Linked DNA regions of Homo sapiens: region 2 is linked to region 1. Evidence: fine-mapped expression QTL. A gene starts in region 1. The other region holds a variant in brackets. All regions are shown on one strand. Distances are between the middles of the regions. Region 1 holds the start of MYOC (myocilin). Region 2 holds the start of MYOCOS (myocilin opposite strand).

The links.
Region 2: its variant is fine-mapped to the expression of MYOC in lung (TOPMed, PIP 0.93).

The regions. Positions count from the first base shown.
Region 1 is chr1:171,647,013-171,662,333 of GRCh38, forward strand. It overlaps MYOC (myocilin), which reads right to left and starts at 5,676. Exons shown (of 3, transcript NM_000261.2): 1 at 4,996-5,676. The coding sequence starts at 5,599.
Region 2 is chr1:171,618,561-171,633,881 of GRCh38, forward strand. It overlaps MYOCOS (myocilin opposite strand), which reads left to right and starts at 3,683. Exons shown (of 3, transcript NM_001391940.1): 1 at 3,683-3,772; 2 at 5,281-5,418; 3 at 7,894-8,328. The coding sequence starts at 5,324. The coding sequence ends at 8,041. RefSeq lists a silencer at 2,675-2,875. The variant G/A (reference allele first, on the strand shown) is at 10,563.

The DNA of each region.
Region 1 (15,321 bases):
AAAGTTCAGTCCATATTACATAAATGAAAGGAATGAAGTAAAACAAGCTATGCCTAATTATCTACAGGTTGTCAGAAACATCTTAGGAAAGTGAAGACTAGCTAATAGACTATTGTCCTGAGTACTGCTCTAACTTGTACTGTCTCTAGAATCAACGCATGTTATTAAAATGTTATGCACATGTTGACATATTGATTATTGAATGATGCTTTAAAACAATAGTGGAACCCTGGCCAGGTGCAGTGGCTCATGCCTGTAATCCCAGCACTTTGGGAGGCTGAGGCGGGTGGATCACGAGGTCGGGAGTTCAAGACCAGCCTGGCCAACATGGTGAAACCCCATCTCCACTAAAAATACAAAAATTAGCCGGGCATGGTGGCGTGTGCCTGTAATCCCAGCTACTTGGGAGGCTGAGGCAGGAGAATTGCTTGAATCCAGGAGGTGGAGGTTGCAGTGAGCCAAGACCACGCCACTGCACTCCAGCCTGGTGATAGAGCGAGACTCCATCTTCAAAAAACAAAACAAAACAAAAAACAAAAACAATAGTGGAACTCAAGTAAAATAAGCCTTTCTAGTTATATTTTATTCACTGGGTGGCCACTGCTCAGCGCTGCACTGGGTGCTTCCCTGTGTGACTGCTAATTTGCATGATGACTCCCATGAGGGATTCTCATCCCCATCCTATTCTAGGTGAGGAAAGGGAATCTGCAGCACTTGTGTTGAACACCTCAGGTTTCTCCCCTCACCCTCCCCTCACATCCTGCCCACTTTTTTGCAGTCATTGCTGAGGCAACCTGCCTCTTGCAGTTATCACCTGCGGGGACCTCGCCTCAGCCACCGTGGCCCAGCTTCTCTGACTTTCTGCATAGAAAGTCTACAAGAACAGGCCAGGCGCCGTGGCTCATGCCTGTAATCCCAGCACTTTGGGAGGTCAAGATGGGTGGATACTTGAGGTCAGGAGTTCAAGACCAGCCTGGCCAACATGGTGAAACCCTGTCTGTACTGGAAAAAAAAAAAAATACAAAAGTTAGCTGGGCGTGGTAGTGTGCACCTGTAATCCCAGCTACTCGGGAGGCTGAGGCAGGAGAATTGCTTGAACCCAGGAGGCGGAGGTTGCAGTGAGCCAAGATCGTGCCACCGCACTCCAGCCTGGGGGACAGAGAAAGACTCCATCTTAAAAAAAAAAAAAAAATCAGTCTGCAAGAACAAACCTCGTCCCCACATCTGAGTATCAGGGAAGCGCAATATACTCCATGGGATAGCCCTTGGCCAAGAGGGTATCAGATCCATGCGTAAACCTCCCCTCTTCTGTTGCAGTCTACACAGCCCCTCTGAAGGGCTTGATGGGATTGAGCCTCCATTGCCCACTGTGGTGACTAGCTGGAGAAGGCCCCCATTTTGTGGCTTTCCTGCCTTCCCTGTCTCACTTTCCCCTGTCTCAACTTCTCTTCTCTAGGATCATGGTCCATATAAACCAACTGCACACAAGCCCTCTTCCAGGCTCTGTTCAACAGGAGACCAGTCCAAAGCAGGGGCTAAATAACAAACAAAGCAGTCCTTCTCTTGTGACAGTAATAACCAACTCTAATTTATCTTCTAGTAAATTATATATGTATTTTATTATATATATAATAAATTTATATATATAATTATATATATTTATATGTATTATATGTAATATATATATTTTTTTGAGATGGAGTCTCGCTCTGTCACCCAGGCTGGAGTGCAGTAGCGTGATCTTGGCTCACTGCAACGTCTGCCTCCCAGGTTCAAGCGATTCTCCTGCCTCAGCCTCTGGAGTAACTGGATTACAGGTGCCCGCCACCACACCCGGCTAATTTTTGTATTTTTAGTAGAGACAAGTTTTCACCACAGTGGCCAGGCTGGTCTTAAACTCCTGACCTCAAGTGATCTGTCCACCTCGGCCTCCCAAAGTGCTAAGGTTACAGGTGTGAGCCACCACACTTGGCTAATTGTATTTTTTTTCTACTTTTCAAAAACTATTATATATACATAAAATTTATATATGTATATATATGAAAATTTATATAAGCCCAGAGAAGAAAAAGTTATATATAACTTTGTAGTAATAGTTATGTAGTAAAATATGTCATATTATGTGTATGTATAAACAAGTGATTTCTATGATTATAAGGAATTTTTTTCTACATAACAACTATTAATACATGATCAAGAAAGTGGTGGTAACAATTTGAGTTGCAGGTGGAATACAGAAAGGCTGCCTTCTCAGGCCTTACCTTTGTCCACTCAGCCTCACTAAGCTTCTCTACCCAAACCTTCACACCTAGTTCTTGCCACTCCTGCAAAAAAGCATACCTAGACTTATATTCCAGCCTCCAGAATGCCCCCTTTTCCCTAGATCTGGCCTTGAAACAGATCTTTTGTTCCAAGCATTCCTGTACCTTTCTGTCTTTTACCTTTAGGGTCTATAAACCAGAGGTCAGCTGAAGGTCTTGAAAGTCAATGAACCTCATGGCCATGTACAGGGAGGGCTCACACCTGTAATCCCAGTGCTTTGGAAGGCCGAGGTCGGCAGATCACCTGAGGTCAGGAGTTCGAGACTAGCCTGACCAACATGGTGAAACCCTGTCTCTACTAAAAATACAAAATTAGCCGGGCATGGTGGCACATGCCTATAATCCCAGCTACTCAGGAGGCTGAGGTAGGAGAATTGCTTGAACCCGGGAGGCAGAGGTTTCAGTGAGCCAAGATCGTGCCATTACACTCTAGCCTGGGCAACAAGAGTGAAACTCTGTCTCAAAAAAAAAGAAAGAAAGTCACTGAACTTCAGAGGAAGAGGCCAGAATTCGAGCTTTGCCACTAACTGGTAGATGGCCATGGACAAGCTGAATAACCTCTCTGGGCCTCAGTTTCCATATCTGCAAAAATCAGCCAGCGGTACCGGATGCTCATTAGGTCCCTTTCCAGTTCCACATTCTTGTACTAATGTAATTTCCTGCTCATGAAAAACATCTACTACTAGAAAAGAACTTCCATGTTTGGTGTTCAATATAATGGGATGTTGCCCTTATTTCAAAAGTGGAGTAGCTGGAAAGATCAAGAAAAAATATAAAATTAGGAAACACATCTAATAAATCCCCAAAGACTTGTTAAATGACCACAAAAGAAAAAAAAAGGCAAAACATTGCCACTATTTTTGTACACACACACACACACCACCCACACCCACATACACACATGCAGGAGTTTTTATTGAGAATGTAACTTCATTCAACAGTCTGAAATAAGTAATGCCTCATCACACTTCTGGTAATGATGATTCTTTCAATTGTCTCCACAGATTCAAGTCTCAAGCTCTACCACTGACCAGCTGGGCAACCTTGGCCCCTTAGCATCTTAGGACTTCACTTTCCTTGGTTGTAAAATTCAGAATTGGATCTCTTCTAATTCTAACAATCTAAACATTTTTTAAAAATCCTTTACATCTTATAGGTATTTCATGTGAACCCCACAAAAATTATTCACAGCAGGAATTTTCTTTGTTATGTTATGGACAAGAAATGAAGATGCAGAGGGTTCAATAACTTGCCCAAGGTCATCCCCAGGCTCTGGCTCTTAGGTTTTCTAACCCCATAGCTATGAAGAGCTTGCCTTTCACGTAGAAGGCTCTTTTTAGGAAATATTTTCTCATAATTTTAAAGCTTTTCAAGCCTATAGAAAAACTGAAAGAATAGTACAATAAGCTCCCCATATACTTAGATTCACCAGTTTGTAATTCACCAGTTATTAATATTTTGCCACAGTTGTTTTACCTTTCTTTCTCTCATTATCTATATATTTGCAGTCTTTCTTCAACCATTTGAGAGCAAATTGCAGACATCCTGACGCCTCACCCTGGGTACTTAAGCATGTATCTCCATAGAACAAAGATTTTATCCTTCGCAACCACAGTATCATTATCTCACCAAGAAACTGAACATTAATACAGTAACATAATAATGAGCAGTCAAATTGCCTCAGTTATCCCAAACCTGTTCCTCATAGCCTTTTTCCCCCTTGGATGAAGACACCAATCAAGACTCATGCACTACATTTGGTTAACACATTTCTTTAGTCTCTTTAATATAGAACAAGCCCTTCCCCACCCCTTTTTTCTTTCTTCCTTGGCACTGACATCTTTGACCAGTCCAAACTAATTGTCCAACAACTGGATTTGCTTGCTTATTTCCTCATGATTAGAACACTTCCTCAACAGGGAATATTTGGGAGCCCACTTTCACAAAAAGTGACACAAATACCATCTTCCCAGCTAATAAGAAGACCTCCCCCAACACCTCACCCCCGCACCCCCCCCACACACACACAGACTCACCTTTAGGCAAGAAGGGACCAGGATGAACAGAAGAGCCTCTCAGAAAAAGCCATCTCAAGAATTTGTCTGATGACTTAAAAGCAGAGGTTCTCAGATTGGACTGAGTAAGAAAACTTTCAGAACAACATATTAAGAAAACTGACAGAGAGGTGCCATCTCTTTATTTTGCCAGGGAAGAACATTTAAAAATAAACAAAAACTTACCACTTATTATCATTTCCCAAATCTATTGTAATTTCATAAATAAAGGTCATTTTAACATCAAAAGGTACAAATAACAATCTGAGCAAAGGTTCAAAAAAGGATAGTTTTTCAAAAGGGACAATTGACAACTTTCTACTGCTCATATGCAGACACATCTCACCCGGTCCTTTTATTTCTCCTTTTGCTATGGACTGTGAAAACTGACATGGAGGGGCACAAGAACTCTGAACCACTAATCTAAATGAAGCTCTCAGGAGCTAAATTACTAGTAATACTTGAAGGTGATCGCTGTGCTTTCCTTAATTCATCTGTCTTGTGCTAGCTGTGCAGTCTCTAGGAGAAAGGGCAGGCAGGGAGGCCTGGAGCGCCTGTAGCAGGTCACTACGAGCCATATCACCTGCTGAACTCAGAGTCCCCCCACTCTGCATTCTTACCTTCTCTGGAGCCTGGTGGCACAGCCCGAGCAGTGTCTCGGGTCTGGGGACACTGGCCCCTTCTCAGCCTTGCTACCTCCTGGCTGCTGCTTTCCAACCTCCTGGCCAGATTCTCATTTTCTTGCCTTAGTCGCTTCTTCTCTTCCTCCAGAACTGACTTGTCTCGGAGGAGGTTGCTGTAGGCAGTCTCCAACTCTCTGGTTTGGGTTTCCAGCTGGTCCCGCTCCCGCCTCAGGGTGCCCAGCTCCCTCTGCAGCCCCTCCTGGGTCTCCTGGGGCCTGGCAGCCTGGTCCAAGGTCAATTGGTGGAGGAGGCTCTCCAGGGAGCTGAGTCGAGCTTTGGTGGCCTCCAGGTCTAAGCGTTGGGTGCTGCTGTCTCTCTGTAAGTTATGGATGACTGACATGGCCTGGCTCTGCTCTGGGCAGCTGGATTCATTGGGACTGGCCACACTGAAGGTATACTGGCATCGGCCACTCTGGTCATTGGCCTTCCTGAGCTGAGCTGTCCTGGCCCCCACATCCCACACCAGGCAGGCCAGAAGCAGCAGCTGGACAGCTGGCATCTCAGGCCCAAAGCTGCAGCAACGTGCACAGAAGAACCTCATTGCAGAGGCTTGGTGAGGCTTCCTCTGGAAAGCTCTGCTGTGCTGAGAGGTGCCTGGATGGGTGGCCTTGCTGGCTCATGCCCGAGCTCCAGAGAGGTTTATATATACTGGGGAGCCAGCCCTTCATGGGGGAAGACAGAGGTGGCCACGTGAGGCTGGGTGGGGCTGTGCACAGGGGGGTTGCCTTCACGCTGCCAGCAAGATTCTTAGAAAATAACCTTCCAGAAGTCTGTTTGGAGTTTCTTTTTAAAAAGAACATCCCAATTTATGCACCCATACCCCAATAATAGTTCCTATATCTCCACCTGGTTTTACACACACACACACACACACACACACGTACACACACTTACACCAGGACTACTGGTGTGCTGATTTCAACAAGGATATATTTCTAGTTTATATTTCCATTCACTCTGCAAACTCATTGAGAACCTGCACTGTGCCAGGCACTATGCTAGGAACTGGAGATCCAAACAAGTCCTTTAAGACGTAGCAGGGACAGAGAAAAATAACAGCCAGCCAGAACACAAGGACAGCACCCTACCAGGCTCCAGGGAGAGCATTCCTATAGAAGCGGCAGATTTCCCCCCTCACCCCTAGCTTTAAAACAACTGTGTATCTTTGGGAGAACTTTCTAATTTCAGTCTTGCATCTCAGGCACCAATGTCAATGTTAGCCTCTAAATCAGTTCTTACTCTGTGTGTGTGCATGCCAAGAACCTCATTGGTGAAATCTGGGGAACTCTTCTCAGAAAGATGTTTTCAAATATATAAAATATAGATTACAAAGGAAACAAATGATAATGAAATATGATTATCAAAATATCAAAATTTTAAACATGTTTTATTAATATGTTAAAAACAAGATCCAGCAGGAGGTCTAATTTCAAAGTAGTTTTGAGTATAAATATTTCACTTACAACGTATCTGCAACAACTGTAATATAGTATAAAATGTCTGTGATTTCTATTGGTAATGACAAAATCACAGGTACTGTTATTACCACTTTGAGTTTATGGCTCTATTCGCAATGGAATAAAATGTTAAATTTAGTTAGAAGGTGGTAAAAACAAAAATGTAATTTTTTCCTCATTCAAATTCACAGGCTTTCTGGACTGTAGGTTAATAATCCCTGCTTTACATTAATAAACCCAAAGAGAAAAAACAAAAAGCAAATGGCAATAGCCAATAAATATACCAAAACTGTCAGAAGTAACTTTAAGCCACTTGAAATAATGATTGCCTTTGAGCAACTTTATGTTGTTAATACCAACAACAGTGTCAATACTTGTGAAGTAAATATTTCCAAACTGCCCTGGCAGACTCACCTCCAGAGTGGAGAAACACAGTTTGCTCTAAAGATTCTATTCTTATTTGATTGGTTCTGCAGTTAAGCCTGAACTTGAGACATTTACAAATGGGTGTTTGTTTACAGCTGACCAAAGGGTACTAGTCTCATTTTCTGAATCAGATAGTAAACATCGCTGAAATGATTTTTCAAAAAACCAATCATATAGTCAGCAAGACCTAGGCTTGAATCTGTTTGGCTTTACTCTTAGGAATGTTTTCTTCCTGTTAAAAGAAACGGGATTGCCCTTGTGCTGCTAACTCCACAGAGAAAAAGAGTTCCTAATAAGGAGAAACTAAGTAATCTTACAGCCTCAGTTACTACCTTGTGACTTGCTCAGAATTACTCAGCTTGTAAAGGAAAAATATAGTATTAGAAATCAGGTCTCCCGACTTCCCTTGAACTGATTTTTTCCCCCCACAATATAGCCCTGCCTCCTAGAACCCAGGATCACGTGGACTATAATCCCTGTGGTCAATTCCCACTGCCCTTGAATGAATCTGTCTTTCTTGCTCATACACTATCCCTCTCTTTTTCTTCTCCTCCCCTGCGCTGCAGGTCACTCCGTGCTGTCAGCAGTCACTGCTGAGCTGCGTGGGGTGCTGGTCAGGGTGAAAAGTTTAACAATCTCTGGCATTTTCCACTTGCTCTGGCCCAGTTTTTGAATGCCAGGCAAAAGCTACCACCAGTTAGTCTCTGCATTCTTTTTGGTTATTGGCAAATGCCATTGTCTATGCTTAGGGAAGGAAAATGTGGCTGTTGGGTTCATTGAGCTTTCCTGAAGCATTGTGGCTCTCGGTCCTGGAGTCTGACGTGATCAGTGAGGACTGATGGAGCACCCAGCTTCTGCCTGCCTTCCTGTCCCCCTCCACCTCCCCTGTGGCTCAGCTGCTCCAGCTCTGCCTCCTTCCCCTCTCAACATCCCCCCTCACAGAGAATCACAGGGAAGTGTTCACAGAACACGAGAGCTGCAAGGGTCTTTATAGCAGAGAAGACTATGGCCCAGGGAAGGAGAGACACTTGCCCACGGTCGCACAGCCAACCAATGGCAGAACCAGAAAGAAAACCGAGTCTCCTGATTCCAAGGTTTTCGACCGTCTTGCATAAGCCAAGTCCACCACAGGGCTGAGTAGTTGCCCAGAAGACATGAAAGAAAAGACTCCAGTCACTTCTTCCGTGAATTAACGGCCTAGGAAATGAGCTCGCTTCCTATATTCCCATTAAATAAAGGCCTTCGTGAAGGAAAACCCATGCACACCCTGGAATTTTAACAGCTGACTTTATGAAACTGCATCCCTTCATGAAATAGACTTCTTCTCCTCCAAGCAGAGAAAAGATAAAAAGGCTCACAGGAAGCAACGGAAAACTCCCAGCCCCGTGAACAACACTGAACATCTGGGCAGCTTCAGCCTTGCCCTTTTCACCTTCCTGCCTTTCAGCACCCGCTCAGCCCCAGCGTCCCCACTCCCTGCAGTCCCCACCTCCTGGAATTCTCCTGGACGTGGAGGCCCCTTTCCCTCTGAGGAAACACTGTCCCCTCCAGATTCTCCGTTAGACTAGTTTCCCTCTCCATTTCCTTTCTGGAGCCTGGAGCCAAGGAGTCTCCAGCTCAGATGCACCAGGACGATTCACGGGAAGCGAGGCAGGCCAGCTGCAGCGCTGTGACTGATGGAGGAGGAGGCTTGGAAGACTCGGGCTTGGGGGCCTCCGGGCACGATGGAGGCAGCAGGGGGCGCTAGGGAGGTGGCCTTGTTAAGGGATGCTGCGCACAATTCTTCAAGATGGTGTTTATTTCCTTTCTTTCAGCACTGGGTTTAAGTTGGCTGGCTATTAATTTTCTTCTGCACGTCTTCCATGAGAAACTGTCACCTCCACGAAGGTAGGGCAGTGACTGCTTTGCTCACCATTTTGTCTCTGGTGTCTGGCAGATATAAGTACTCAATAAATTGTCAATGAATGCCTGGATGAATGAACGAGTCACACAGAAATAGAAAGCAACAGGTCCCTAGAGAGTGATAACAAAACAACCAGTGGCACGGGCTGGCAGGTTGCTCAGGACACCCAGGACCCCGGGTGCTTGCAGGGCTCCCCCAGCTGGAGAGGAAACCTCTGCCGGGGGCTTCAAGGAGTCTCTGGGGTATGCCCTCCTCCCCTATACACACACACAGATGGCCCCAAATGGAACTAGTTTATGTATACTCTTATTTCAGTAACGATGTGGAGGCTTACCACAAAAGCATGGTGAATAAAATGGTAACTTAGCCTGAAAATGAGGATGAGGGAAGAAAGTGATGAGGACCAGTGGTCTGGGACTAGGCAGGCAGCTCATGGCACCATTCCCCATCCCAAGAATCCCTGAAATTATCACAGCTTTTGTCTGTTTCCCTGTTGGTTTAGTAAACCATTCAAGTTATTCCTTATTAAACACTGACCCTTGGCCGGGCGCGGTGACTCATGCCTGTAATCCCAGCACTTTAGGAGGCTGAGGTGGGTGGATCACCTGAGGTCAGGAGTTCAAGACCAGCCGGGCTAATATGGTGAAACCCCATCTCTACTAACAATACAAAAATTAGCCGGGCGTGCGCCTGTAGTCCCAGCTACGCGGGAGGCTGAGACAGGAGAATTGCTTGAACCTGGGAGGCAGAGGTTGCAGTGAGCTCAGGTGTAGAGCATACAGGTAGGTGTAAGACACAGACCCTCACCCTCACGGAGCTTCTGGCTGTAACATCGTGATGCAGAAGTCTAGAGTGGGGAGACTTCCTGTGGAGCGGGATGGGCTGCACAGGGGAGGTGGCATTTGTAATGGGACCTACTGAGATGACACGTTAACAATGGTTGAGGCACTTGGGTTGTAGATGTGGTTGTAGGTCAGACACATCGGGCCTGTGTGTGAGGGCTATGACAGATCATTCTGAAAAAGTTAGGATGGGGACACAGTGATTTCTAATGATTTCTGACCTATCCGGAGCTGGGACACGTTATCCTTGTATGCCTGACTTTATAAAATTGGGACCCATGTCTAAACTGATTATGCATCGCATATTTGTTTTATACTTAAAATGGTTAAAATTCATGATCTTTCAAGAGTTTCTTAAGATTCCTTAAGAAAACTGGCCTTCCTAAAGGCAAATGCCTCAGGGTCCCTGCTGAGGGGCACTGCTGCTTTGAAGGCTCACAATGTTCTGGTTGCCTTTTAACCATGTCTTTTGTTTTGCTCTCAGTTTTTCATATTTCCCTTGAAAGTCCAGGCTTAGCCCAGTCAATTTTTGTGTTCCCTGGTATAGACGGGGAGGTGTTGCGAACATGGTCAACTGCCTAATCACTGTTATGAAAGCTTTCCCAGTCCCCATTTTCCTCCTGCATTTGCGGAATTTTGATTTTGCTGTTATTGTTATGTCCTTTGCTAACATGACCTTCCTGAACTTGCCTCCCCAGAGTGATGCCATCTGGTTTTTAAAATAATAATCCACTTTGGGATCTGATCAGATCATGCTTTTGACGTTTTTCCCATTTTCCCATCAAGCTCACATGGAGGTCTCTTCCCAAGGAACAAATACTTAATTACCAATTTGGAAACATCTTTTTTCTGAGCTGTTTTCCTTATTCATTGATTTTGGTCCTCATCATTTTTTCCTGAAATTAAAAACAAAGGGAAAAGTTTATTTTTCATCATTATTTGCTCTCCTGGCATTTTTCCTTGGGCAAGTGCCCATCTCATTCCTGTTTCTTAGCTCCTGTTTGATGGATTTACCATATTGGATGTGATGTTTCCTGAAGAATAGCTTCTGTCAGGAGCAACATCTGTCACTAAAATAAGAGCAGACACAGCCTGGACACTTGGCTAACGTGGATACTCCTTCTTCCTGATTCTTTATCATCCTGCCAAAGACATACATCCGAATGGAGGCTATACAGTTTATAGGACTTTCACATTGGTTATCTCATTTCATTTCATAATAGCCCTGAGGTAAACTGAACAAAGATCAGAATTCTTCCTTTACAAGTGGAGAAACTGTGGATCAGAATAATTAACTGATTTATTTAAGGTCACATAGATAGTCCATATAGCTATGTGTATGTGTGTGTGTGTGTGTGTGTGTGTGTGTGTGTGTGTGTATAGATATATACACAAACTATATATCTCTCTCTATATACATACGCACATATATACTATATATATGAATATACATATATATATATATATATATATATATATAGAGAGAGAGAGAGAGAGAGAGAGAGAGAGAGAGAGAGAGACAGAGACAGAGACAGAGAGTCAGTCAACCTAAAATGAGCTACAGAGTGACCAACTCCCCAAAACAAAGAGTTTATTCAGGAATAGCAAGGGATTGCGATTCAGGATATGTGTGCTGTGGCAAACCCCAGGTGCATCTGAGGGGTTTGGGCAAGGGCAAGATTTTAAAGGCAAAAAGGAGAAGTCCACATAAACTGTTTTGAAACAAATACTATTGGTTACAGGGACTTATTGCAGGTGGTGACGTTTGTTCATTGGTGGTACTGGCTATGGCTACGAAAGGGTCTTCATAGAAGTGGCTTAACAGGAAAGTTCAGTTGGAAAAGTCTTTTGTCACAGTTCCTGTTATAGGGTATATATGTGTGAGGGCCTTTTGACTCTATTTTCTTGGCCTGTTGACTCTATTTTGTTTTTTGGTTGTTTGTTTGTTTTTTTGAGACGGAGTCTTGCTCTTTCGCCCAGGCTGGAGTGCAGTGGTGCGATCTCAGCTCACTGCAAGCCGCCTCCCAGGTTCACACCATTCTCCTGCCTCAGCCTCCCAAGTAGCTGGGACTACAGGTGCCCGCCAGCATGCCTGGCTAATTTTTTGTATTTTTAGTAGAGACGGGGTTTCATCGTGTTAGCCAGGATGGTCTCGATCTCCTGACCTCGTGATCCACCTGCCTCAGCCTCCCAAAGTGCTGGGATTACAGGCGTGAGCCACCGCGCCAGGCCTCTTGACTCTATTTTGTTAGGATTTGATATAGGTGACTCCATTTTGGTACTGACAATTTTCCCAGTAACTATATATATAGCCGATCATATAGCTGAAATACAGCCTTCTAATGCCATCTAATTTCTAAATATTATGCTGTTGTAGGAAAGCCCTCAAGTATGAACTTTAGGCCGGGCGTGGTGGCTCACGCCTGTAATCCCAGCACTTTGGGAGGCCAAGGTGAGTGGATCACCTGAGGTCAGGAGTTTGAGACCAGCCTGACCAACATGGTGAAACCCTGTCTTTAGTAAAAATACAAAAATTAGCTGGGCGTGGTGACGTGCACCTATAATGCCAGCTACTTGGGAGGCTGAGGCAGGAGAATCATTTGAACCTGGGAGGCGGAGGTTGCAGTGAGCCAAGATTGTGCCACTGTACTCCAGCCTTGGTGGCAGAGCAAGACTCCCATCTAAAAAAAAAAAAAAAAAAAAATAGAATGAACTTTAGACCGGGCGTGGTGGCTCATGCCTGTGATCCTAGCACTCTGGGAGGTCAAGGCAGGCAGATCACCTGAAGTCAGGAGTTTGAGAGCAGCCTGGCCAACATGGCAAAACCCCAACTCTACTAAAAATACAAAAATTAGCCAGACATGGTGGCGGGTGCCTGTAATCCCAACTACTCAGGAGGCTGAGGCAGGAGAATCATTTGAACCCAGGAGGTGGAGGTTGCAGAGAGCCAAGATGGCACCACTGCACTCCAGCCTGGGCGACAGAATGAGACTCCGTCTCAAAAAAAAAAAAAAAAAATTTATGGAGGCTCTTCAGATATTTTTCTTTCACCCAATCTATTTACTAGCAACTTGAGGACTAGATTTGCCCAAACATATGCAGGACATCTGCCTTGGGCTTGCCCTGTGGTGTGGGATTATGTGTCCTATGCTGTACAGGACCAGAGTGGAAACCATGAGCAGCTGTGGGGAGACCCGGTGCTAGTGGAGTCTTGGGCCAACCTGAGGGCAGCTACAGACTCATTCTGAGTCTTTGTGAAGGCTGCTGGCAGTAATCTCCTTTAGGTGCAGCACAGAGCTTCTCCCACCTTACTTCCAAGGTACAGAGTTTCTTTAGGGAAATGTTTCAAGTTTCTTTAGAGAAATGGGAAAGAGTGTGACGGGGGAGGGGGCTTTAGTCCACTGTTGCATTACTATAAAGAAATGCCTGAGGCTGGATAATTTATAAAGAAAAGAGGTTTAATTGGCTCACAGTTCTGTAGGCTGCACAGGAAGCACAGCGCCAGCCTCTGCTTCTGGGGAGGCCTCAGGAGGCTTACACTCATGGCAGAAGGCAAAGAGGGAGCAGGAATCTCACATGGCAGGAGCAGGAGTGAGAGAGAGAGTGGGTTGGGGGGAGGTGCCACACACTTTAAATGACCAGATCATGTGAGAACTCACTATCCCTAAGAGCACCAAGCCATGAGGGATCCACACCCATGACCCAAACACCTCCTTGTGTAATATAGTAAGTATTCTCCAAAACCAAAACAGAAACTGGCCTTTCAAAAAAGGTCAAGTCCACTATTTTCCCTGTCTCTTAGGAGCTGCAGAGTCTCACTCATCATGGTTCTTGTTGACAAGAAAATCCATACTCTATAAAATATTTGAAGAGATTTATTCTGAGCCAAATGTGAGTACCATGACCCATGACACGGCCTCAAGAGGTCCTGAGAACATTTGCCCAAGGTAGTTGGGTAACAGATTGGTTTTATACATTTTAGGGAGATAGAAGACATCAATCTATACGTGTGAGGTACACACTGGGTTGGCTTTCAGGTCGTAGGTAGAGTTAAAAGATTTCCTGATTGGCAATTAGTTAAAAGAGTTAAGCTTTCCCTAAAGTTGAAGTCAGCAGAAAGAAATACTTGGGGTTAAGATAAGGGGGGTTGTGGAAGCCAAGGTTCTTGTTATAGATGAAGCCTCCAGGTAGCAGGCTTAAGAGATAATGGATAATAAATATCTCTTTTCAGACCTTAAATGGTGCCAGATTTAGTTAATCTCTTTGGGGTTGAGAGGGCCTGGAAGGGCAAATACCTAGTTACATTAATTGAGATTCTTTACAGATGCAAATAGTCATTTCAAAATATGGGAAAGAAACATATTTTGGGGTAAAATATTTTGATTTCCTTCTTTATTGGTCATGTGATGCTATACTAGAGTCAGGTTGGATTTTGGTATCTTATTGTTAAAGAAAGAGTTCATTTGGTCGGTCTTAAGATCTGTTTTAATGTTGGTCAATTGTGTCTAAATTCTAAAGGGAGGAGGGTATAATAAAGCATGTCTGACTCTCCTTCCTGTGGTCTGAACTAGTTTTTCAGGTTTCTTTGGAATCCGCGTGGTCCCATTCAGCCAGTTGTGGGGCTTAGAATTTTATTTTTGGTTTACAGAATGTTTCTCGGCATCAACTTCATTCTCCTCTTCACCAATATCTAGCTGCTGACTTCAGCTGTAGTCCCTGATGGCTGCCCCAGCCCTGAGCCTACCTCCCCGCATGTGACCTTTCAGCTCATTTCCTCTGTTAACTGACCCAGCCTCTGTGTTTCCCAAACCCCTTCTTAGAAGAGAGCTGATTGGCTGAGCTCCTTCTTTCAAGTGACCATACCAGCAGGAAGTTGTCCAGTAGGCAACTGAAGCACTGGCCTGGGACAGAAACTCAACTTTGATGCATGAAATTATGTTTTATGGAGGGGGATGAGGGCCTGTTTAGAGCAGAAAGATCTATGGGCAAAGAAGAATCCCTTAGAAGGAGATGTGGGTAGGCAAAGGATAATCAGCAATTGTAGTTCAGTGCCTAAAAGTAATCTGTTCCTCACTATGTTTAGTCGGTATGTTTCTTACCATGGAGGTAAAAAGTGTGGGACATTCAATAACATGCTTGGGCCTTCTGTGTGCCTGACACTGTGCTAGGCATGGAAAAGATATTTCCAAGGTCGTTGGTAAAGGTTGTGGGGTGAAAAGAGCTAAAGGGAAGATGGAGACAACTTCCTGATGACTTGGGCTTCGCTTCTCACTCACATATAGGAAAAATAATAGTGTACATGGTGACCATATAGCAATAGCATAGGTAAAATAGGCTTTTATGGGTTTTTTTTCTGGGATTCTCCTTACCATTTACACTTTTCTATGAGAAAATAGTTCTCATGGCTTGTGTCAAAAAAGAAAAATATACTTCTTTCTTAAATGCACTCAAAGACTATATTTGCAGGGGCCGATGGGAGAAGAAAAGATGAACAGTCGTTCCGTTTGGGCAGGTGTTAGAGCCTGGAGCCTTTATTGCCCAGGTCATGCGTGAATATACATTTTTTTCTTTTTCTTTTCTTTTTTTTTTTTTTTTGAGACAGACTTTCACTCGTGTTGCCCAGGCTGGAGTACAA
Region 2 (15,321 bases), 28 kb before region 1:
TTGTTTGTTTGTTTGTTTGTTTGTTTGTTTTTTGAGATGGTGTCTTGCTCTGTCACCCAGGCTGGAGTGCAGTGGCATGATCTCAGCTCACTGCAACCTCCGCCTCCTGGGTTCAAGCAATTCTCCTGTCTCTGCCTCCCGAGTAGCTGGGATTACAGGTGTGGGCCACCACGCCCAGATAATTTTTGTATTTTTAGTAGAGACGGGGTTTCACCATGTTGGCCAGGCTGGTCTCAAACTCCTGACCTTGGGTGATCTGCCCGCCTTGGCCTCTCAAAGTTCGGAGATTACAGGCATGAACCACCATGTCTGGACTCACTATCTCCTTTTTTGCCATGAGTATCCCCCTTTTTTGACATGAGTATCTTTTGACATGAGTATCCTCACAACCAGCCCCTATCGTTTGAGATAATTTCAAACTATTTTTCAAGTAAGAATCTAAGAGAGCTTTTGGTGCCCCCAATTTGTTTTAAAATTAGTAACGACATCTTGTAGTTGGATATTTTTCTATTGCTTCTAAAGTATGCATTTTCTTCCTTTATTTTACCCATATATGTATTTGGTGAGTGGAAAATGTGGTTGTTAAATGTATGGACTTTGGTATCAAGCAGACCTTGTTTTGAATCATAGCTCATTACATCTTATCCTCCCAAATAGCGAATTTCTTCTATTGTGGTTTCATTATCATCAATGTAAAGAAATAGACTCTTTTATTGTTCAACTGCTTTATTACTAGGACTTCTCCTTGTATGAAATGTAAGCTTCATGTTTAGAGGTCAGGATTCAGGAACATGTTTCAGCTAAGCATGACACATCCTAAAGGATGGCTAGTGTGGGAAATAGTGATTTTTCCTGGATTGTACTGTTGTCAATCACTTTCGACGTATCTGAACTACAACAGACTCCCTGAGGGTTCCTGGCTAAAGCTCAGATTTTGTTTCAAAAGCCATTGAACTAAAACAGCAACAAACAAACACACACAAAACAGATTATTTAAATAAATCAAGGCCGAGCACAGTGGTTCATGCTTGTAATCCCAACATTTTGGGAAGCTAAGATGGACAGATCACTTAAGGTCAGGAGTTCAAGACCAGCCTGGCCAATATGGTTGAACCCCATCTCTACTAAAAATACAAAAATGTGGCAGGCACCTGTGGTCCCAGCTACTCAGGAGGCTGAGGCACATAATCATTTGAACCCGGGAGGTGGAGATTGCAGTGAGCCGACACCGCTGCATTCCAGCCTAGGCAACAGAGCAAGACTCCATCTCAAAAAAAAAAAAAAGAAAAGAAAAGGAAAAGAAATCATTACAGTGGCTGTATATCTTCTGAAATTTGCATACAATAATTGCTTCTGACATATTCAAAATATGTAAGAAGCCCCTCCAACATCAGACTCCAAGTTCTTCAGTTTTGGGATTCAGACTGGCATTTCTTACTCCTCAGCTTGCAGACAGCCTGTGGGACCTTGTGATCATGTGAGTTAATATTTAATAAACTCCCCTTTACATATATATATATATATATAACCTATATATAAAATATATATATATATATCTCCTATTAGTTCTGTCTCTCTAGAGAACCCTAATACAGGAGGACAGGGCTTACCTTCATTCCATTATATGAAGGTGAGGACTGAACTCTGATTTTTATGCTGCCCAAATTCCTATCTAAGGTGTCTGGGGCATCGTGTCCTACAAATCATAAATTCTCATCAGATGGGTTTTATTTAACATTAATCGTGACTTACTCTCCAACCTGACTCTGGCATAATATTATGAGACAAGAAAGAAAATCAAAATATTTTACCCCAAAACATGTTTCTTTGCCATATTTTGAAATGGTCATGCAAAGCTGTTCTTTTTGGGGGCAAATTTGCATCTGTAAAGAATCTCAATTAACATAGCTAGATATTTTTCTTCCAGACCCTCCCAATCCTAAAGAGATTAACTGAGATCTGAATAGGAAACATTTGTCATCTATTGTCTCTAAGGGCAGCCACTATAAGACTTTGAAAGAACTTTGGCCTCCACCATCTTTTATCTTAACCTGAACATTCCCTTTCCATCAATCCCAGGTCCTTAGAAAACTCAACCAATTGTAAAAAAGAAAAATTTTAAATTCACCTGTAGCCTGGAAGCTCCCCCTCCACTGCACTTTGAGTTGTCCTGTCTTTCTGGGCAAACCAATGTATTTCTTTCTTTTTCTTTCTTTTTTTTTTTTTTTTTGAGACGGAGTCTCGTTCTGTTGCCAAGCTGGAGTGCAGTGGCGATCTTGGCTCACTGCAACCTCTGACTCCCGGGTTCAAGCGATTCTCCTGCCTCAGCCTCCCGAGTAGCTGGGATTACAGGCGAGTGCCACCACGCCGGGCTAATTTTTGTATTTTTAGTAGAGACGGGGTTTCACCTTGTTGGCCAGGATGGTCTCGATCTCCTGACCTCGTGATCTGCCCGCCTCGGCCTCCCAAAGTGCTGGGATTACAGGCACGAGCCACCGTGCCCGGCCTACCAATGTATTTCTTAAATGTATTTGACTGATGTCTCATGCCTCTCTAAAATGTATAAAACCAAGCTGCACCCCGACCAACTTGGGCACGTGTTCTCAGGACCTCCTGAGGGCTTTGTCACAGGTCATGGTCACTCATATTTGGTTCAGAATCTCTTCAAATATTTTACAGAGTTTGACTGTTTTCGTTGACAAAGGGAAATAGCTGTATTTATCTACGTATATATAGACCTTGTGTAGACCTTGTTTTTAATCCCAGCTTCATTACACCTTATCTTCCCAAGCAGCAAATTTCTTCTATGGTGGGTTTTTTTTTTTTTTTTTTTGAGACGTAGTCTCACTCTGTCAACCAGGCTAGAGTGCAGTGGCGCGATCTCGGCTCACTGCAAGCTCCGCCTCCCGGGTTCACGCCATTCTCCTGCCTCAGCCTCCTGAGTAGCTGGGACTACAGGCACCCGCCACCACGCCTGGCTAATTTTTTGTATTTTTAGTAGAGACGGGGTTTCGCCGTGTTAGCCAGGATGGTCTCAATCTCCTGACCTCGTGATCCGCCCGCCTCGGCCTCCTAAAGTGTTGGGATTGCAGGCATGAGCCACCGCGCCTGGCCTCTGTTGTGGTTTTATTATCATGTAAAGAAATAGACTGCCGCCTTGAATTCCTGGCCTCAGCCTGGTGGGAGGATCACTTGAGGCCAGGAGTTCAAGGCAGCAGTGAGCTATGATCTCACCACTGCACTTCAGCCTGGGTGACAGAGTGAGACCCTGTCTCAATAATTACAATAGTAATAATACATTTTAAAAATTAAAAAAATGCAAGAAAGGCAAAATTAAGGATTGTTTGCAAACATTTTCTCAACCCTCACAACTGCCCTAGAAGATACTATTACTCCTCTTTTACAAGTAAGAAAACCAAGGCTTCTAGAGGTTAAATTACTTGCCCGAGATCACTCAGATCAAAAGTGGGAGTTGCACAATCAACTCCTTTAATTTCAGAGCTGAAACACCTGCCAGCATAGAAGAAGTGCTGTGAATTATCAGGAAGAGGTGGGATCAGTGATTATTGATGGCACTGGGAGGAGGGGCGTACGTGAATTAGCTTTTTAAAAAGTAGTCAATAAAGAGACTAGGTCACAATGTGTTTACTAGCATCTGAGATAGCGCTTCCCCATTGCTCACATGACAGAAAGCTCTTCCCCTGCTCTGCCCCCAAGACCCATCCTCTCCCTGCGACATCTGTGGAGATTTCTCAAGGACACGGCTCCAGGGGTAATTTGTTTCAGCTGCTGCTTTCTAAGGGCGCAAATCAATCTTATTAACCCAAGTTCCTGAGAGAGACTGACTACAGGAGGTTAAAAGACTAAAGGGGAGGAAGTTGACGTTGGTGGTCCTTTTTTCGCCTTTTCTCTTTTCAAAGAGATGAAGTAGCTGGTATGTGGGTACAGAGTATGTCATAAGGATATTTCTTAGCAAATCCATGAGTTGGTGCGTAAAAGCAGTTATATGCTAAGCTGACCTGGGACTAAAAGGTAAGTCAGTTGGGCATCCTTATAAGAACAAACCTTTCCAGCCAAAAGATCAAGCTGGCGAGCTCTGGCTGTTGCAACTCATGCTCTAGAATGGCAGTCACCACGTGAGTGTGACCTGGTGTCTAGGAATGGGAATTACTCTAATTCCTCTTCTGTTTCTTGGGAGATGACTTGGCTCTGTAATGGAGATAATATAGTCTTTGAAGTCAAACAGACCTAGCTTCAAATTCTAGCTCTGTGACTCCTGAAAAGCTACCTAATTTCTCTACTGCTCAGTTTCCCCATTCGTTGAATGAGGATCATAATACTTACCATGTGGGTTTACGGTGGTTATCAAATAAGATGAAGCAAAAGGGCCAGGCATGGTGGCTCATGCCTGCAATCCCAGCACTTTGGAAGGCCAAGGAGGGCAGATTTCTTGAGCTCATGAGTTTGAGACCAACCTGAGCAACATGGTGAAACCCCATCTCTACAAAAAATACAAAAATTAGCTGGGCATGGTGGCATGCACCTGTAGTCTCAGCTACTTGGGAGGCTGAGACTGCAGTGAACCGAGACAGCTCTGCTACACTCCAGCCTTGGTGACAGAGCCAGACCCTGTTTCAAAAAGAAAAGGGGGTGGGGGGCAACAAAGTAAAAGGACATCCCAAGGTGACCGGCAGTAAATGGGTGGCCGCTATCTCTGTTATCAAAATCAACCCTCCAGTCTCTATGCCATGTGCATATCTGGACAAGTAGCATGGCTCCCAGCTGCAGCCTTATTTATGTCCCTTTCCTGTTCTTTAAGGGGTAAGTGTTCCAGGAAGAAAGCTTTGCACATGTCAGTGAGGTCAAACAGCCCTGTGAGAAAAGGGCTCCTCTGGAATGGCGCCATTAGAGAGGAACCAGCATGAGACAGGGCTGCCGTGCAACCTGGGGAGATTCAGTTCACCTATCTGTGCCTCCATTCCCTCAGTGTTATCTGGGGGTAATGATAGCTGCCCACTGCATGATTGGAATAATCACATTTGTTCTATATAAACAACCAACAAGTACTTTACTCTTAGCCGCCCACTCCTCATAATAGGTATTTGAGGAAATATCTGCCTCTTGACCTTGGGGGGAAGGGGGATGAAGGCCAGGCTGTAGGGAGGACCAACTGAGAGTAAGGCAGTGAATGTTCTCTGCAAACTGCGCCATTCTGGACCTAGCTGGAGCATTCCTGACCCCTGAAGCATGTGTGCCAGCTCTTGTGTTTTGCATTCACAGGTGCAGTAACTTTAAATTCCTCAAATCCCCTGAGTGCAAGGCCATGGCTCAGAAAAGCCTTGCAAACAACAGCATTAATCTCCCCTACAAGGACTTGACCTCCGAGGTAACCAGGCGCCGAGTCACCATGATCACAAGGTACCCAAAATCTTTCCTCTGGATCGCTTGTGGGGTTGGGACGGAGCATAACACTGAGCCCCAGCAAGTGCCTGAAACTGTAGCTGGCACTGGTTTATTTAAATGTATTTAATGCTGCTGCAAGACACATTTCACAGAAAAGGAAACTGCTTTGTCATCCATTGTGGAAAACAGACTTTTCCCACATGGCCCTTCAAGGGGTGATGACACCCATTTGTGTATGTTCACTGCGTGGGTGGTCGTGGCTCTTGATAGAGAGTGGGGAGTGGGGATCACTTTGTTTGGTTTGGTTTTGTTTTTTTGAGACAGGGTCTCGCTCTGTCACCTGGGCTGGAGTTCAGTGGTGCAATCACAGCTCACTGTAGCCTCAGCCTCAAGCTCCTGGGGCTTAAGCAATCCTCCCACCTCAGCCTCCCAAGTAGCTGGGACTACAGCCATGTGCCACCACGTCTGGTTAATTATTATTATTATTATTATTATTATATTGAGACGGAGTCTCTCTCTGTCGCCCAGGCTGGAGCAATCTTGGCTCACTGCAAGCTCCGCCTCCCGGGTTCACGGCATTCTCCCACCTCAGCCTTCTGAGTAGCTGGGACCACAGGCGCCCGCCACGACGCCCGGCTAATATTTTGTGTGTGTGTGTGTTTTTTTTTAGTAGAGACGGGGTTTCACCATTCACAGGATGGTCTAAATCTCCTGACCTTGTGATCTGCCCGCCTCGGCCTCCCAAAGTGCTGGGATTACAGGCGTGAGCGACTGTGCCCGGCCAGTTTTTTTGTATTTTTAATAGAAACAGGGTTTTGCCATGTTGCCCAGGCTGGTCTCAAACTCCTGGGCTCAAGTGGTCCACCTGCCTCAGCATCCCAAGGTGCTGGGATTACAGATGAGAGCCACTGTGCCTGGCCCAAGATGACACCTCTAGCTTGAGCTCTTTGTCGGGTATGTTATGAGATTAAAAATAATAATCTTACTAAATCTGATAAGAAGTTGGTCAAAAAAATCAAAATTATTGATTTGAAATAGAAAATACAGACTTCCATCTAATGTTGTTTACAATGCCCTTTGACCTTAGAGTTTATTGGGATGTAAGATTCCAGCAAATTGATAGGAATTAGGTGCCATTTCTTAGTTACCATATATGGGAATGTCAAATCTTTGTTGATAGTGGTGCACAGCCAATTTGATACCACGGGTTTAGACCGTGAGAGTGGGCATTGTCTGCAGGAAGTGTGGTCCCTGTGCTCTAATGTCCATCCAAGGACGAGATGGCATAATTCTGTGGCCTGTCCTAGCCACCAAACAATTCCCTTCCCATCATCCCACATCCTCTCAGCAACATTAGGGATCAGCTTTGATTGGGAGATGGGAGCAGTGAACTTGTGGCCAGATTGAAATTTAAATTTGGATTCCAGTTCTGCCTTCTACTGGTCACATGATCTGGGTAATCACCTTCTGTCTCAGCTTGCTCAGCTGAAAGATTTAATGTGGGGGCTGAGATTCTACATGTGGTTAGTTTCTAGGTAATTTCTAGTCCCTGGAACATAGTAAATGTTCAGGGAACAATTAAATCTGAACCTGTAAAAGCTTGACAGGCTAGTCCTATGCCCTTGAAGGCAAGGTTTGCCCAGCCCTGAGGAGGATGGGGAGACTCTGGTATACTCCAGCAGAAGGGGAGGCGAACCCCACAGCCTGGGGATGGGGGCAAGTTAGGCCAAAGGGAGCTGTGAAGTGAAACTGAGGCTGGACTGGCCCTGTGAATAGCTGGAATGCAAATGAAACGTTTAGACACAGCCTGTCCCAGGCTGAAATGTACAGAGAGCTGGCCAGTAGGGGATGGAGAAAGCTAATTGATGGGAAGAACTACTGCTCTAATCCTAAGATACCCTTGGAGGATGGGGATGGAGGAGTGAGGGTGCAGACTCTAACTCTGTTGGGTCCATGGCACCAACGGGGACAGCTGAGCTCACTCTGAGGAGAGCTGACTGACAATTAAAGTATATCTCATTTCTGCAAGGTGAGTATGGGTGGAGGAGCTTGGAAAGATGTCCTCTGAAATGTTAACTATTCTTTTTAGATGCTGGCATCTGGGGTATTTCTTTTGTTCCTTCTTTTTTGTTGTTTTGAGACAGGGTCTCACTCTGTCACCCAAGCTAGCGTGCAGTGGTGCAATCATAGCTCACTGTAGCCTCGATCTCCCAGGCTCAAGTGATCCTCCCACCTTGGCCTCCCAAGTAGCTGGGACCACAGGTGCATGCTACCATGCCTGGCTAATTTTTATTTTCTTGTGGAAAGGGGGTCTCCCTATGTTGTCCAGGCTGGTCTTGAACTCCTGGGCTCAAGTGATCCTTCCACCTCAGCCTCCCAAAGTGCTGGGATTACAGGCATGAACCACCATGCCCAGTCTGTTTCCTTTTCCTCTGTTTATTTAAAACCCTATCTTTATTCAAATGGCATTCAATGTGCCTTTCTTCCTAGAAAAGAGATAATTACCCAGAAAAGTGATGAAGCTAAGGAGATGCTCTCCCACTTGGATTTGGAGCAAGCCCCTCCCCCTCACAGGACCTACCTCACAGTACCTCCTGCCCCACCTCCTTCTCCAGCTGAGGATCCCACGGTCTCCTAAGATGTAAAACTTATTTTGAAGTGAATTCTTACACAGAACTCCAGAAAACAGTTTCAGTGGCATTCTTGAGGTTTGTCTTAGAAGACTCTTGAAGATCTTTGTTCTTTCCTATTTTTCTTCACCTAGAACCACCATAGAGCATGGTTTACCCTTGCTAATAGACTTAGTCATTTTTGGTTTTTTAATCCAAGTCTCTGATATGATATGCATATATTTTGATCTTTATGTTATGCTATAGAACTGTTGCTGTAGTCAGTTGTATTTAAATTAATAAACAGTTATCAGGCCTTGTTGTTTATTACTAAATCTGAATCAGTGAAAAGTCTAGGCCTTTTAAAGTCTAGAGTTTAAAGATCTCAGGTCCTGGGAACCCTGAGGTAGCTGGATTTTCAAAACGCAACCTGAGACACTACAGTTGTGTGGCCCTATATTTTGGAGCTGCATTCCCATGCCGTGTGCTGGGGCTAAGGTGGTTGAGTTTCACATTTATTGACAGTGTTTTTAAAGTTTGTTTCTGGGAGATTTGAAGTGATTTTCAAACTCTGTAACAGAAAACTCTACCCTGAAAAGCAGCCAAGTGTAGAGTGGTTCTGTTGTGGAGAAGTCCATTGCTTGAGTCCTCTCCAAGCTCCTTGACGGGCCCCAGTGCACCTCTAAGGACTTCCGGGGCTCTTCTGAATTGTTCGAAGGCATCAAAAATGTGATAATTCTGGCATACATATACATATAAAAAATATCCCCACATGTCATCCTTTATTTCGTCTGCTGCTTCTTAGAGTCCTTGTAGGTGTTCTGTCTCCAGGCCTGCCCTTGTAAATGTGCTCGGCTCCCCTATGAGAAAGGAGTCAAAGCTTCTGTACACCATTGTGGAGTCAGGGTAAACACTCTGTGATCTCCCCTGATCCCATGCATTTAATAAAACCAATGTTCCTTCTTTAAAAGTAAAAAGTGCTCCGGTTCTTCTACCCCCATAGTAGTTGGCTGTGCCATTGGTGTGGAAGTCGGACTCCTTACCTGTGGCCTTCAGCAGCATGGGGCAGGGAAGGAGCCTGCACTGAGTGTCTGCCATTGCCAGCTGGATGCTGGACATACACATCTCCCTCTCCTCAGTCTGGTGAAGAATGGGCCTGCGCTGTCCAATAGGACAACCACTGGCCACTTGTGACTATTTCAATTTAAATTCATTAAAAATGAAATAAATTCAGTTCTTCAGTCATGCTAGTCATATTTCAAGTGCTTAGTAGATTTGTGCAGCCAGTGGCTACCCTATGGGATGTTGCAGTTGTAGAATGTGACTGCCATTAAAGATAATTCTATGAGGCCGGGCATGGTGGCTCACCCCTGTAATCCCAGCACTCTGGGAGGCAGAGGTGGGTGGATCACCTGAGGTCAGGAGTTTGAGACCAGCCTGGCCAACATGGAGAAACGCTGTCTCTACTAAAAATATAAAAATTAGCTGGGTGTGGTGGTGTACACCTGTGATCCTAGCTACTTGGGAGGCTGAGGCAGGAGAATCGCTTGAACTCGGGAGGCGGAAGTTGTGGTGAACTGAGATTGCACCCTGTGCTTCAGCCTAGGCAACAGAGTGAGACTCCATCTCAAAAAAAAAAAAATAAATAAATTCCATTAAACAGTGATGGGGCAGAGGTTAAACATGTCCAAGGACACACCGCCAGTTAGAAATAGAATCAAAGAGAGGTCAGGCTGGGAAAGAATAATTCTTGTGTTTTACTTCCATTTGGTTTCTGAACACATTCTAGGATGTTCTCTCTGTTCCTTTGTTCAGCAAATGTTGAGTACCCACTATGTAAGCACGGCACTGTTCTAGGGATATATCACTGTACAAAACAATCAATCCCTACCCCATGGAGTTTACATTCCAATGGGGAAAGACTAACAAAAAACATACACAATGTAAGTCCAGGTGCAGTGGCTCACCCCTCTAGTCCCAGTGCTATGGGAGGCCAAGGTGGGCAGATCACTTCAGCTCAGGAGTTTGAGACCAGCCTGGACAATGTAGCAACCTCATATCTACAAAAACATACAAAAAAAATTTAGCTGGGCGTGGTGGTGGGCTCCTGTAGTCCCAGCTACTTGGGAGGCTGAGGTGCAAGGATCACTTGAGCCTGGGAGGTGGAGGTTGCCATAAGCTGAGATTATGCCACTGCACTTCAGCCTGGGTGACAGAGTGAGACCCTCTCTCAAAAACAAAACAAATACACAATGAAAAAACAGTGAATTATACATCAGGAGGCGATGAGTATAATGGAAAAGATGTGTTAAAGCAGTGAAACAGGGTAAGGGAGATTAGAAGTGCAGGTTGGTTGTAGTGTTAAACAGGGTGGTCTGGGTAGGTGTATGACTCCATTTTAATGCCACTGATAAAGGCATACCCGAGACTGGGAAGAATAAGAGGTTTCATTGGACTTACAGTTCTACATGATTCTGAGGGGAGTCCTCAGAATCATGGCGGAGTGTAAAAGGCACCTCTTACATGGTGGCAGCAAGAGAAAATGAGGAA[G/A]ATGCAAAAGCAGAAACCCCTAATAAAACCATCAGATCTCATGAGACTTATTCACTACCATGAGAACAGTATGAGGGAAGCTGTCCCCGTGATTCAAATTATCTCTCACCAGGTTCCTCCCACAATATGTGGGAATTATGGGAATATAATTCAAGTTGAGATTTGGGTGAGGACACAACCAAAACATATCGTTCCATCCCTGGCCCCTCAAAATCTCATGTCCTCACATTTCAAAATTAATAATGCCTTCCCAGCAGTCCCCCAAAGTCTTAACTCATTTCAGCATTAACCTAAAAGTCCATGGTCCAAAGTCTCATCTGAGACAAGGCAAGTCCCTTCCACCTATGAGTCTGTAAAATCAAAAGCAAGCTAGTTACTTCCTGGATACAGGAGGGTACAGGTATTTTGTAAATACAGCCATTCCAAATAAGAGAAACTGGCCAAAACAAAGGGGTTACAGGGCCCATGCAAGTCTGAAATCCAGCTGGGCAGTTCAAATTTTAAAGCTCCAAAATGATCTCCTTTGACTCCAGGTCTGTAGGACCTCTTTAGGAAGGTGGCATTTGAGCAAAGACTTGAAGCCAGTGATGAAGTTAGGTGTGTGGACATTTGGGACAGAGGGAAGAACTAGTGCAAAGGTTCAAAGGTAGAAGTGTGCCTGGTGCATTCAAGGAGAGCGAGGAAGCTTGAGTAGAGTGGATCAGGGACATTTGTGGGATGAAGGCACAGTGGTGGAGGAAGGAGGCCGACGATGTGGGGTTTTGTAAGAACTCTGACTTTGACTTTGAATGAGATGGGAAGCAGAAGCCATAGAGGTTTTCAGAAAAAGAGGCATGATCTGGCTTGTGTTTTAATGGGATTGTTCTGGCTACAGTGTTGAGAGTAGGCTGCATGGGTAGAGGGAACAGAAGCAGGTCATCTGCTATTGTAGTAATCCAGGAACAAGACGATAGTCATTTAGACCGATTACAGTTGTAGTGATGAGAAATATGGGAAGATTCTGGATCTACGTGTTTGAAGATGAAACCTACAAAAGCTGCTGATGCATTGGATATGGGGTATGATAGACAGGCGGGTAAAGGATAACTCTAAGATTTTTGGCCCAAGCAACTAGAGGGATTGAGTTTCCTCAGCCAAAAGAAGAGCAGATTTACCTGGGTGCAATGGTTCATGCTTGTGGAGGCTGAGGCAGGAGGATTGTTTGAGGCCAGGAGTTTGAGACCAGCCTCATCAACATAGGGAGACCCTGTCTCTACAAAAAACAAAAACAAAAAAAAACCAAGCACAGTGGCTCAAACCTGTAGTCCCACCTACTTGGGAGGTTCAAGCTGCTTCTTGCTTGAGCCCAGGAGTTTGAGGCTACAGTGAGCTGTAATTTGCCACTGCCCTCCAGCCTGGGTGATAGAGTGAGACCTTGTCTCAAAAAAAATAAAAATAAAAGAGCAGATTTGGTGTGTCTGATGAAGAAAGAGAAGGTCAGATGTTCAACCTGCTAGTTTGACATGCCTAATAGACATCTAAATGGAGATGCCAAGGGGGCAGGTGATATATGAATCTGGAGTTCAGGAGTAATGACTAGGTTGGAGATATAAACATGAGGTTCATTAGCATATGTGAGTTGGAATTTAAAGCCCTGATATTAGATGAGATGCCCAAAGGAGTAAGTAGATAAGAAGAGACCCTAAACTGAGCCCTGGGGTGCTTCAATCTTAAGAGGGAGCTAGCCTGTAATCTCAGCACTTTGGGAGGCTGAGGCAGGTGGATTGCCTGAGGTCAGGAGTTCAAGACTAGCCTGACCAACCTGGTGAAACTCCGTCTCTACTAAAAATACAAAAATTAGCTGGGCATGGTGGCAGGCGCCTGTAATCCCAGCTACTCGGGAGGCTGAGGCAGGAGAATCGGTTGAAACTGGGAGGCAGAGGTTGCAGTGAGCTGAGATCATGCCATCGCATTCCAGTCCGGGCAACAAGAGCGAGACTTCATCTCAAAAAAAATAAAAAGTAAAAAGAGGTCGGGATTAAAGGGCGGAACCAGCAAAAGAAACAAAGAAGGAACAGTCAAAGATGGAGGAGGAGTCTAACATTCTGAAAGCTTCATGAAGGAAAAGTTTTTCTTCCCTTTGTTTCTTCTTCCTCCACCCTCTTCTTCCATCCCAAAGCCTGATGCAGCAGGTTATGGAGAGAAAGAACAGGAGCCATGGGGAGGGCTGCACAAACAGGATTGGCTCATCTCAGCATCTCAGTTACTTTCCACCTTCCACTTTTCATTCAAACACCTGGCAGGTAGAGGTGCTTAGTAGGATGAATGAGCTCATGCATTCCGATTTCTGGGCTTTTCAGTTTTTAAGAGTCAGCTGTCAGTGGGGGAGAGTGGTTGACACCCAGATGTTATGGGCTGAATGGTGTCCCCACCCCCAAATTCATATCTGAAAGTCCTAATCCTAATACTTTGTTTTTAACTTTTAGTTTTTTTAGACAGAGTCTTGCTCTGTTGCCCAGGCTGGAGTGTGGTGGCATGATCTCGGCTCACTGCAGCCTTCGCCTCCCAGGTTCAAGCGATTCTCCTGCCTCAGCCTGTCAAGTAGCTGGGATTACAGGTGTGCACTACCACACCCGGCTAATTTTTATATTTTTAGTAGAGACGGGGTTTCACTACGTTGCCAGGCTGGTCTTGAACCCCTGACCTCAAGTGATCCTCCTGCCTTGGCCCCCCAAAGTACTGGGACTACAGGTATGAGCCACCACACCTAGCCCTAATCCTAATACTTTAGAATGTAACTGTCTTTGGAGATAAGGCCTTCAAAGAGGTGATTAAGCTAAGCTTAGGTCATTAGGGTGAAAAAGAGGAGATCGGGACACAGACATGTACAGAGGGAAGATAATGTGAAGATGTAGAGAACAGCCATCCATCTATAAGCCAAGGAGAGAGGCCTCAGGAGAACCAACCCTGCTGACACCTTGATCTTGGACTTCCAGCCTCCAGAATTGTAAGAAAATTAATTTCTGTTGTTTAAGCTATGAAAGGAAAATAAATCTTGGGGTCCCAAAATCACTAAGCTAAAGGGAAAAGTCAAGCTGGAAACTACTTAGGGTAAACCTGCCTCCCATTCTATTCAAAGTCACCCCTCTGCTCACCGAGATAAATGCATATCTGATTGTCTCTTTTGGAGAGGCTAATCAGAAACTCAGAAGAATGCAACTGTTTGTCTCTCACCTACCCGTGACCTGGAAGCCCCCTCCCTACTTGAGTTGTCCCACCTTTTGGACAGAACCAATGTACATCTTACATATATTGATTGGTGTCTCATGTCTCCCTAAAATGTATAAAACCAAGCTGTGCCCCAACCACCTTGGACACATGTCATTAGGACCTCCTGAGGCTCTGTCACGGTGCCCTCAACCTTGGCAAAATAAACTTTCTAAATTAACTGAGACTTGTCTCAGCTCTTTGGGGTTCACAAAGCCACTCTGTCAGTGGTATTTGTTATGGGAGTTCAAGTATATTAATACACCAGTGGAGAGCCATTTTGAGATCTCATCCTCTCCCTTCTCACTCATGGCATGTGTAATCTTAATGAGAATAAACTCCCAGGGGAAAAGAAAAGTCAGGCTTGGTATGGTGGCTCACGCCTGCAATCCCAGCACTTTGGGCTGCTGAGGCCAGCAGATTACCTGAGGTCAGGAGTTTGAGACCAGCCTGGCCAACATGGTGAAACCCCTGTCTCTGCCAAAAATACGAAAATTAGTTAGGCATGGTGGCACATTCCTGTAATCCCAGCTACATGGGAGGCTGAGGCAGGAGAATCAATTGAACCCCGGAGGCGGAGGTTGCAGTGAGCCGAGATAGCACCACTGCACTCCAGCCTGGGTGACAGAGTGAGACTCTGTCTCAAAAAAAAAAAAAAAAAAAGTCAGATTTTTCGCTTTGCTTTCCAAAGTATAGTCTTTAGAACTCAGGATAGGAAGAATTGTCTTAAAGCCAAGGCTTTGACTTTTAAGAGCTGATTCTCTTGGAAATCAAAAGGCTGAGCTCTGGTCCCATGAACAACAACCTGAGAAGATAGGTGAAGAGTATTCCATCTCTACAGTCTGAATAAAGTCTGGAAGAATAAGGGAACTTCAGAGAGAGAAAGAGAGCTTAGAAATTAGCCAGGCCTGGTGGTGGGCGCCTGTAATCCCAGCTACTCGGGAGGCTGAGGCAGGAGAATCGTTTGAACCCAGGAGGCAGAGGTTGCAGTGAGCCGAGATAGCACCACTGCACTCCAGCCTGGGTGACAAAGCAAGACTCTGCCTCAGAAAAAAAAGAGAGAGAAAAAACTTAGATTCTGGAGGTTTCCTGATAGGACTTCATGTACCAGATAGGTTGGGGCAAGAGAAAGCAGAGGAGACTTGTGCTCATTTCCAGGTGAAGCCTATGGGGTGGCAGACTTCTAGGAGAAGTGGCCCTGACCCAGCAGGGGCACAGCAGGAGAGCAAAAGGGAACCTGTGTTCCTACCCTGCAGGACAGCTCCCACTGTGTCCTCATATCCTTGGTGGTACACACAACAGGCTGGAAAAAAGCTGCCTTGGCCAGGCATGGTGGCTCACGCCTGTAATCCCAGCACTTTGGGAGGCTGAGGAAGGTGGATCATGAGGTCAGGAGTTTGAGACCAGCCTGACCACCATGGTGAAACCCCTGTCTCTAGTAAAAATACAAAAATTAGCAGGGCGTGGTGGTAGGTGCCTGTAATCCCAGCTACTCAAGAGGCTGAGGCAGGAG